Regions from separate parts of the Homo sapiens genome. Here region 1 is linked to region 2. A link means that fine-mapping ties the variant in region 2 to the expression of a gene that starts in the linked region. Tissue or cell type: whole blood. Region 2 holds a variant in brackets; the other region holds the start of a gene. All regions are shown on one strand. Distances are from middle to middle.

Region 1 (5,147 bases), 670 kb after region 2:
TTTGTTTGTTTGTTTGTTTGTTTTGTTTTTTGTAGAGACAGGTGTCTCACTATGTTGCCTAGGCTGGGCTCAAGCTGTCCTTCCCCGTCGGCCTCCCAAAGTGCAGGGATCACAGTTGTGAGCCACCGCACCTAGCCAAAAGCTATGTATATCACATGAACCATGTAGATTAATATAGATTTTCAACATCAGATAGCTAGACAGTTATAATGAACACTTGCTGAAATTTTTGTTTATTTTTAAAGTATATTTTCCTGCCACTTTAAATTAATTTTGCTTTTTTGTTATCAATATTCACTTATTATAGGATAGACTGTGATTCTGTTATAGCTGAAAGCAGTAAGCACTGTTTTTGCTTTACCTAATTACTTTTTCAGCTTATAAGGTAAAATCATTCCTTTTAGTAACATCAGTCTCATAACTCTTTTTGCTGGAAGCCTGAATATGTGGTATTTTTCAGGTCTTTCTGTGGAATTTGGAACAATTCTAGTTTACACATGTGAGAAGAGTTGCTGGCCCCCAAATCATCAGACTCCCATGGAAGAATTTTGTATTATACAAGAAGACCCAGATGAATTATTGTTTAAGTAGAGCATTTCCTTTTATTAATATAAATTAAAACAAATGTTTACATCCAAATATGTTTGTATGTACCTTATTTTAACTCACAAGTTATTAACCTCTGTTTTTCTGAGTTGCCTTTTTGCCTTTGGGTGCTGGTGCCGGGGCCGGGGCCGGGCCAGGACCTCCTGACTGTGGGTTGGTCTGCCCTTCCAGGGTCCAGGGCCAGCTGTCACAGTGGCAGCTAGGAAGGTAGCTCCTCTCTAGTCCAGAGGGCTGGTGTTGTCTGCACAGCCGTTCTGGTGGGCATTCTAGGGGGGAGGAGAGCAGCGAAAGAGCCAAGAGCAGTGGTCAGCCTCTTGTGTACACCTCTGACACGTGCACTCCAGTGCTTCCTATGCTGTTTCTGGCACCTGATCAAGCCACTGAACCTGCTCTAGCTGCTGGAGGTTTTTGCTCTGTGACCCTGGCTGTTTAGACCTGCCCATGTTCATCAGCCCAGGTCCCCGCCCTCACCCACTCCCATCTTCTGCTCCTGCAGTATCCCAGGAAGGGGTCTTTACTCCGTTCTGGAGACTGTCCCTTTATCCAGCTGCCTTCCAGTCTTCCCCTTTCTTTATTTTTAACATGATCAACCCCTTCCCTTCAGCCCCATAACAGCAGTATAAAAACACTCCCAGCCATGTTCAGACATGCTCTGCCTACGTAGATGAGGATAATGAGGCCTAGGTGATCATGGGGTGGGCTTGTTTCTTGCATTTAACATTATATTTGGAGCATTTTCCCATTAATATTTTTCCCACAACATAATTTATAATTGCTCTATTTTTTAAATATACATCAAAAGCTTTATACAATTTTTAGCCACTTGTATTTTCCAATTTTTATTCCCATGATGGCCATCCCTGTAACTAAATTTATATATATTTTAAATCAATGATAACTGCTACAGGACAGTTTCCTAGAATTGGAATGAATGAGTCAAAAGTTGTGCACAATTTTAGGGTTTTTTTTTCTTTTTTTTCGAGACAGGGTCTTGCTCTGTCTCTCAGGCTGGAGTGCAGTGGTAAGGGCATAGCTCACTGCAGCCTCGACCTCTCAGGCTTAAGTGATCCTCCTGCCTCAGCCTCCTGAGTAGCTGGGACTACAGGTGCAAGCCACCACGCCCTCTAGAGAAGCTTTGCTTTGGAATCTTTACCTGGAGTGTGTTGGAGTGCTTGTTTCCCAATCCCTTGATAAGTGTTACTTATTTTTTCTTTCTACCAGTTTAGTAGGTGAAAAACTTTTTTTTTTTTTTGAGACAGAGTCTCGCTGTATTGCTCAGGCTGGAGTGCAGTGGTGCAACCTCCGCCTCCTGGGTTCAAGCAATTCTCCTGCCTCAGCCTCCTGAGTAGCTGGGGCTACAGGCTTGTGCCACCACCCCCAGCTGTTTCGGTGTTTTTTTTTGTTTGTTTGTTTGTTTGTTTTTTTGAGACGGAGTCTGTTGCCCAGGCTGGAGTGCAGTGGCGCGATCTCGGCTCACTGCAACCTCTGCCTCCTGGGTTCAAACGATTCTCCTGCCTCAGCCTCCCGAGTAGCTGGGATTACAGGCGCACGCCACCACGCCCGGCTAATTTTTGTATTTTTAGTAGAGATGGGGGTTTCACCATGTTAGTCAGGCTGGTTTCAGAACTCCTGACCTCGTGATCCACCCGCCTCGGCCTCCCAAAGTGCTGGGATTACAGGCGTAAGCCACCGCGCCCGGCAGGTGAAAATCTTACCATTTTGCATGGTTTACATTTTTTTCTTTTTTGAGACGGAGTCTTGCTCTGTTACCCAGCCTGGAGTGAAGTGGTGCGATCTTGGTTCACTGCAACCTCCACCTCCAGGGTTCAAGCGATTCTTTTATGGTTTACATTTTAATACGCTTATTGATCATATTGTCCAATTTTTTGTGAGTTTCCTGTTCACATCCTTTGCCTATATTTTTTTGGGGGTGACACTTGTTAATTTGTAAGAGCTCTTTACGTATAGGGACATCAGTTTTCTAACCTGTAAGGAAGTCTTGGCTGGGAGTTGAAACCCCAGGCTAGAAGGCGACCCTTAGACTTTTTAGGTCTGATGGCGGGCCTATGCTGGTGTGGGAATAACACCGCCGGTCTCAGCTGGAGGTCGCCAGCCCTTTGCAAGAGCCTGCCGGTCCCCGCGGGCTGCAGCACACCCCGGCGCGATGTGCCCTGCCTGTGTCTGCCGGAGGCTGTAGTGCGCAGGAGCGGAAACCAGGCCGCCCTTCCCCCACCCGCTTCCGGCCGCGGCTCGGTTCTCCCGCCTCCGCCTCCGCCGCGGCTCGTGGTTGTCCCGCCATGGCACTGTCGCGGGGGCTGCCCCGGGAGCTGGCTGAGGCGGTGGCCGGGGGCCGGGTGCTGGTGGTGGGGGCGGGCGGCATCGGCTGCGAGCTCCTCAAGAATCTCGTGCTCACCGGTTTCTCCCACATCGACCTGGTGAGGGCCGGGCGCGCGCGCGTGAATGGCGGGCTGTGGTGCGGGGGCTGGGATTCGGGGGTTCCGGGGCTCCAGGGGCTCTGAGGCTCAGGGCCCGGAGCCCGGGACCGGAGTTGCGGAGCGGGGGCAGGCTGAGAGGCTCGGGTTGTGCCCCCCCCGCGGGAGGAGACTGTTCTTTGGGCACGGGGCGGGCCTCCGCTCGCTGGGCCGGCTCCGGACGCCGAGGAGGCCGCGGGCCCCCGCCTCCCCGGCAGCGCCAATGTGTGGCGCTTCGTGGGCGTGAAGCCGCCTCTTATCCTCCCTTCAAAACAAATTCCCGGCTGTTAGGAGATGCGGGAGAGGATTGAGTCCCTCGCGGATGTTGTGACTTTAATTTTGAGGTCCCTGTCGTAACTCCGAAGTAACGACGCGGGGCGGAGGATGGCAATGATAGCGACCAACGCGTCCCGAGCGCTGGTCACGAGCGGGTTTACACACGGAACGCGCACCATCTTCATACCACCCGAGGAGTGCAAACGCTATTTCCACCCTGCTTTATTTTTAACAGATGAGGAAAGGGAGACGCAATGGGGTTGAGTAACTTACCCTGGGTCACGGAGCGAGTGGCAGGGCTCCCGCAGGCTGCGTGACTGTCATTGCTCTCACAGTAGACGGTACACTCGCTTGTTTCATTAAAGACGTTAGGACTGTGCCTTTTGCATTGGTGTACGTTGACAAGCCAGTGCTATTTTGAATCGTTATTTCTACTAATGCAAACTTTTTAGAGATTGGAGATGTTACTGGCCCTTCGGTGTGAGTTTAAAGTGTCTTAAGGGCTAGTGGAAACATGGAATGAACAAAAAAGTACGGGTGGCCGACTGAGTCATTGTTTCTTTCCTTTATGTATTATATATTTAAGCAAAAATTAGATAAAACTTAAAACATGATACTTTTTTAACCATGTGTAAAAGTTTCCTTTCACAGTTCTCAGGTTAATAGTAAATGAAATTGTGTATGGATGAAGGCTTGAATTAAGGGAGGCAGCAAAAATTCAATAAACGTTTGCCATGTATCATTTAAGAAAAAGAACAGAACCTGGGCAACATAGAGAAACCCCGTCTCTACAAAAAAAGAAAATTAGCGGGGCGTGGTGGTGTGCGCCTGTGGTCCCAGCTACCCGGGAGGCTGTGTCAGGAGGATCGCTTGAGCCTGGGAGGTCGAGGCTGCAGTGAGCTGTGTTTGCACCACTGCACTCCAGCCTGGGCAACAGAGGGAGACCCTGTCTCAAAAAACAAAGAAAAAGAACAGGGCATAGTTAAATTTAATATTTTGTACTTGAAAGAGTAATTCGATTGAAAGAGAAATACTTTAGTATTTTTTGAGACAGGGTCTGGCCCTGTCACCCTGGCTAGAGTGCAGTGGCCCGATCTCGGCTCACTGCAACCTCCGCCTCCCAGGCTCCAGTGATCCTCCACCTCAGCCTCCCGAGTAGCTGTGACTACAGGCATGTGCCACCTAATTTTATTTTTTCTATTTCTTGTAGCCACCAGGGTCTCACTATTTTGCTTAGGCTGGTCTTGAAGGTCTGGGCTCAAGCGATTCTCTCACTTTGTCCTCCCAAAGTGTTGGGATTACAGGTATGAGCCACCACTCCCGGTGTAGAGAAATATGTTAATATATTTTCAGTTAGTGTTTACCTCGACAGCACATATAGTTTTAATGAATTCACATATTTTTATGGCATCCAGGGAGTTTCCTGAAATATTTTCCAGGATGATTAAACAAACAAAATATACCATTCTTTCAAAGTATTTTTGAGAAGTTTATCTCTGACATTAAATCTAGATTCTTACATGCATTAAATTATTCTTTATCAGTTTAACAATTTTGGTATGGCGATTCGAAAAACGCTTTCTCCACTAATGTAGCAGATATCAAAAGTTCTGGATTACAGGTGCTGAGAGTAGTGATACAGCTCAAACATACGTAAACGTTTGTCATTTATCTGGGGTTTATGCATTTGTAGATTGATCTGGATACTATTGATGTAAGCAACCTCAACAGACAGTTTTTGTTTCAAAAGAAACATGTTGGAAGATCAAAGGCACAGGTAACTATATTTCTCAT
Region 2 (5,147 bases):
TGTGTCCGTGGTGGGCTCTCTTCGTCCCGAGAGCAGCTGCGCTGGTTGGACTTCAAAGGAAGCAGGAAAACAGCTCAGATATCTTCTTTAGCTCTCCTTTCACGGTGACCCCAGACGCCCTACCAACAGCCATTACATGGGAGCACATTCCGTTTGCAAAGCTGGCGGGTCTAATTGCAGGGCCTTTGGTGGAGATGTGCAGGCAGAGGCTAAGCAAAGAGTTTGAGGCCTTGAAAGGGGAATTCAGGGACCTCGGGCACTGTCTTCCAGGAGCCCAGTAAGCTCCTCCACCCCCACCCAGGCAAACACCGGCTTCCAGTTCCCTGCAAATGGCACCTCTCTTGGAGCAAGGAGACACCCCCAAAGTGCTGGAGAGCGAAGAACGGGAAGGGGGTTGGGTCTTGGCTGACGGATTGCCTTAGAAGACTTCATGTTATTGAATAACGTGAATACTGTGATGATGGCCAATTCCAGGTGCGCATGAAGATCGTGAAAATAACAGCTATTTCCAGTGTTTACATCTACTTAATATTCTCGTGCTCAGAGCTAACGAGGCTGGCGTTAGGCGGTGACGTGGGCCTGTTTGAAGGATGCTGGAAGTCGCGGGCCTAGGTTGCATGGTGTGTGTCTGGGCTGCCTCCCAAACCGAGGTATGTGGCCCAGATCTGGCTAATGGACAGTTTCACCCAAGCTCTGTCCTGTTTCCAGCTGACAGCTGCTACCTGCAGGTGCTGCTCGAGTCTGTCTCTGGTTCACCATAAGCCAAGGTTGGGTCTTCTCCCCCAAGGGCTCCTCCATTCCCTGAGACCTCCCTGTCTGGGGGTCCTGGCAGCATGCTATGGGAGGAGTCCTCCAGACATTTCCCTCACCCTCACCCCTCATACCCCTGACTCACCAAACCCTCTAGCCCTCTGGCTTTGTTGTTCTGCAAAATCCAACATTTCCTTTTCCTACCCCCGCCCAACCTGCCTAAGTTCAGATGTCCCCACTCCTCACCTCCATCATAAGGTAAGAACCTGAATTTGTTTTCCCACTTCCTTTTGGGCCTCACTCTTCTCCAAGTTCCCCAGTCACCTCCAGAATGACTTCTGAACATGCAACCCTCAGGAGTCTCTCCGCCCTCCCCACTTTCCCCAACCCTGCAGTCAGCACCCCAGGGCTCTGGAGGCTGTACAGGTATGAGATGCAAAGGGCCTGTGGTTTAGGTGTGAGTGTGGTATGGGGGTGTGGAGGCAGCCCCGTCTGGCATGGCTGTGAGGGGGCAGTGGAAGACAGGCTGTCTGTGCTCCCATGATGGTCTGGGGCCCCCCTGGTCAGCCCACATGGCCCTGTGGGGGCTCCTGCTGCTACAGGGTGCTGGGCTGGGCGGAGGAAGAGCTGGCCATTCAGGATGGGCGCAGTGGCTCATGCCTGTAATCCCAGCACTTTGGGAGGCCCAGGCAGGTGGATTGCTTGAGCCCAGGAGTTCAAGACCAGCCTGGGCAACATAGTAAAACCCCGTCTTTACTGAAAACACAAAATTTAGCCAGGTGTGGTGGCGCACGCCTGCTACTCTGGAGGCTGAGGCATGAGAATCGCTTGAACCAGGAGGTGGAGGTTGCAGTGAGCCAAAACCATGCCACTGCACTCCAGCCTGGGCAACAGAGTGAGACGCGGTCTCAAAAAAAGAAGAAAGAAAGAAAGAAAGAAAGAAAGAAAGAAAGAAAGAAAGAAAGAAAGAAAGAAAGAAAGAAAGAAAGAAAGAAAGAAAGAAAGAAAGAAAGAAAGAAAGAAAGAAAGAAAGAAAGAAAGAAAGAAAGAAAGAGAAAGAAAGAAAGAAAGAAAGAAAGAAAGAAAGAAAGAAAGAAAGAAAGAAAGAAAGAAAGAAAGAAAGAAAGAAAGAAAGAGCCGGCCATTCAGAAGGGAGCAGAAAGGGGCTCTTGGACAGGTATCCAGGGGAGGTGATGTCCCCACAGCCAGCCACTGACAAGCCCAAGATTGGCATCCATACTCAGGTTTGGTGTCTTTTTTTAAGAGATGGGATCTCACTATGTTGCCCAGACTCAACATGGGAGCTCAAACTCCTGGGCTCAAGCAATCCTCCTGCCCCAGCCTCCCGAGTAGCTGGGATTCCATGTGTGCACCACCACGCCAGTATTATGCTCAAGTTTGACCCCTCAAAGAAGCTGGTGTAATCCTCAGGCCAGAGCCTTCCAGAGCTTCTCTTGCCCCAGCCCTTGGCTGGACCTGACTCCAGCTTCAAGGCCCTGCCCTGGGAGATTCACCCCAGCTCTGAAATGTAGACTGCAGCTATCCAGACCCTCGGCAGGGAAGAGCCGGACTGACGGCCAGAGCCCCTGAGTGCTCCGGGCAGTCTCTGGCCTTGTCCCTGCAACCTGTGAATTGCCAGAGTCTCTGTTCTGTTCTGGTGGGGTGGGGTGGGGGGGCACACAGGATGACCCCTCAGCTGCAGCTGCCCCTCGGTGTTCCCTGAGATGCCAGAGAGAAGACACTGGAGATGTTGGTGTAGGGGTGGGGGTGGGCCTGGAACTGTAGCTGCCCATTCACTGTGCTTGAGTCAGGGCCGTCACCCAGACTCCGGGACCCCTGTGGGTACAGTCAGTGACCATCAGTGCTCAGCCGTCTGGGAGCTCTTCCAAGGATCAGAGCACCCATCCCTGAGCCCCTAGGCAGCCCTTTGCAGTCTGGAGCCCCACTCTCCCCAGGGTGTCTGCAGAGCCCCACCCAGGCCAGAGCGGCCTGCAGTGGGGGTCACTTCAAAGAAGCATCACTTAAGACAGATTCACTTTTGTGGCTCTTTAGGGTATCACAGCAACAGCTGTGACAGGCTTGACAGCTCCAGGCCAGCTCGGTAATTGACGTGGCAGCCAGAACAATGCATCCCAAGGCCGGCTGGAGCTGGACCGATCATTTTCTTGCAGCTGGGCCACAGTGGTAATGAGGCTGCCGTCCTGGCTGCCTGACTCCATTCCAGGGTGAAGAAGGACATGCTGCCCACGTCTGCCCCTGGAGGGCCTGTCTCAGGGCTGGGCCAGTGGGTAGGGAGCACTTTTCCTGTAAACAGGCATGTGTCAGCACATTCTTGCACTGCTATAAATAAATACCTGAGACTGGGCAGTTTATAAAGAAAAGAGGTTTCATTGGCTCACGGCTCTGCAGGCTGGACAGGAAGTGTGGCCCCAGCATCCACTTGGTTTCTTGGCGGGGGGGGG[C/T]GGTGCTCAAAGAGCTTTTACTCATGGCAGCGGGCAAGCGGGAGTGTGCGTGTCACCTGGTGAAAGCAGGAACAAAGGGTGAGACTTGGGGGCAGGCGGTGCCACACTTCACAACAACCAGATCTCATGAGAATTCATTCACTATTACAGGGATGGCACCAAGCCATGAAGGATCCCCCCATGAGCCAAACACCCCCCACCAGGACCCACCCCCAACACTGGGGATCACACTTCAACATGAGATTTGGGCGGGGACGAATGTCCAAACTACATCAAGACAGCCCCTTTATGGGGCCACCCCAGCCTCGGGCTCCAGCCTGACTCACTTGCTTCTATTTGCTGGTAACCCCACAATGGGAATTCACCATTATTTAGACCAAATGAGGTGCCTTCCTGCAGAGCTGGCTGCAGAGTGGTCACCACGTGCCATGTCAGCCAGACAAGAGGAGGCGTTGACATCCGTCCCATTTAACCCACCAGGCATGGTGCTGTGAGGTCACGGCTGCTGAGAGCCTGGGGTGGGATCCCGGTGGGCCCAGAAAATGGCAGCCTCCAGGCCCAGGCCCACTGCCTCTACCCCTCTTTCCCTGAGAAGTGCTGGTATCATGCCCCCACTGGCCCAGAAGAGCCACAGGTGGCTGAATGAGCTCCCACAGGCACGTCTGCCCCCCGCACCTCTGACCAGCCACCCCTGATCCCCTAATTCCCTCTCCTCCAACTGCCCTCTGGATGTCTGCACTTGGGAGACCTGTAGTCAGGTCTCCTCAAAGTCCACAGGGATCTGTCCTCCTGCGCAGGGAATAGCATCAGCATTCACCACTGCTAAAGTCAGAAGCCAGCGTCTCCCTCTGCAGTCAGCCAGTCCCAGGTCCTGCTGATGTAGTGGCGAGTTCAGGCCAACTTGTCCTGGCCCCCAAGGGCCCAGCCCCACATGACATCAGTAGTTTGAAATCTGCCATGATGGGATTTCAGACCACGGAAATCAGCAAACACTGCAAACCAGGCTGCTCCCCGCTCCCACCCCATCACCCAGAAAGTCAGGTGTTCAACATTTCCCAGCACACCTCCATCTCCCGAAATGTTCTTCAACTCTCCCTCCACTGTTTCATCATCCCCTGGGTCCAGGCCTCAAGAGTCTCCTGCCTGGATAGTGACAGCAATCCCCTGACCAACCTTTCTGCTGTATCTTTGACTCCATCTCAGAATGGTCCTTAAATTCAAAATAACTCCACACCCTAAAGCTCTTTGAGACTCTCCTGGGCCTTAGGAGGTAAGGTCTAGTGTCTTTGCATGGCTATAAAGCCTCTTTCTTGCCGGCCAGCCATCATGGTTGCCCTTCCTTCCTTCCCTCCTTCCTTCCCTCCCTTCCTCCCTTCTTCCTTCCTTTCTCTTTTCTTTTCTTTTGAGACAGGATCTCACTCTGTCACCCAGGCTGGAGTGCAGTGGTGCAATCATAGCTCACTGCAGCCTCTAACGCTTGGACTCAACTGATCCTCCCACCTTAGCCTTCTGAGCAGCTGGGACTACAGGTGCCCATCACTGTGCCCAGGCTAATTTTTTCATTTTTTTTTAGAGATGGGGTCTCACTATGTTGTCCAGGCTGGTCTTAAACTTCTGGCCTCAAGTAATCCATCCATCTTGGCCTCCAAAGCACTGGGATTAAAGGTGTAAACCACTGTACCTGGCCCTGCCTTTTCTTGACACTCTTCAGTCTCTGGACCCATCTCTTCATCCCAGGAGCCTTGCTTTCATGGTGGAAGGCCATGAAGCTCTGCCAGAAATGTCCTCATTACCCTCAGGTGCCAATTTATTGTCACGATCTTCAGGAGCTGTCACCTGCAACACTGAGCTAGCTAACATGTCAACTGTCCCACATTGCCTGCAAAGTCCTCCATGGCTGCCATCACACATGGAGTTGCTGGCCAGTGCCTCTCC

What was found. PIP is the estimated chance that this variant, and not a neighbour inherited with it, causes the effect.
Region 1: it holds the start of UBA2, and the variant in region 2 is fine-mapped to the expression of UBA2 in whole blood (INTERVAL, PIP 0.93).

Annotation. Positions count from the first base shown.
Region 1 is chr19:34,425,530-34,430,676 of GRCh38, forward strand. It overlaps UBA2 (ubiquitin like modifier activating enzyme 2), which reads left to right and starts at 2,852. Exons shown (of 17, transcript NM_005499.3): 1 at 2,852-3,041; 2 at 5,047-5,130. The coding sequence starts at 2,904. PDCD2L (programmed cell death 2 like) reads left to right here. Exons shown (of 7, transcript NM_032346.2): 7 at 461-639. The coding sequence ends at 591. LOC124904695 (a long non-coding RNA gene) reads right to left here and starts at 2,835. Exons shown (of 2, transcript XR_007067232.1): 1 at 2,593-2,835; 2 at 577-872. RefSeq lists silencers at 2,740-2,979, 3,010-3,119, 3,190-3,349.
Region 2 is chr19:33,755,720-33,760,866 of GRCh38, forward strand. All of the region lies in intron 3 of CHST8 (carbohydrate sulfotransferase 8), which reads left to right. Among named protein-coding and RNA genes, the nearest start is that of KCTD15, 39 kb to the right of the region's middle. The variant C/T (reference allele first, on the strand shown) is at 3,213.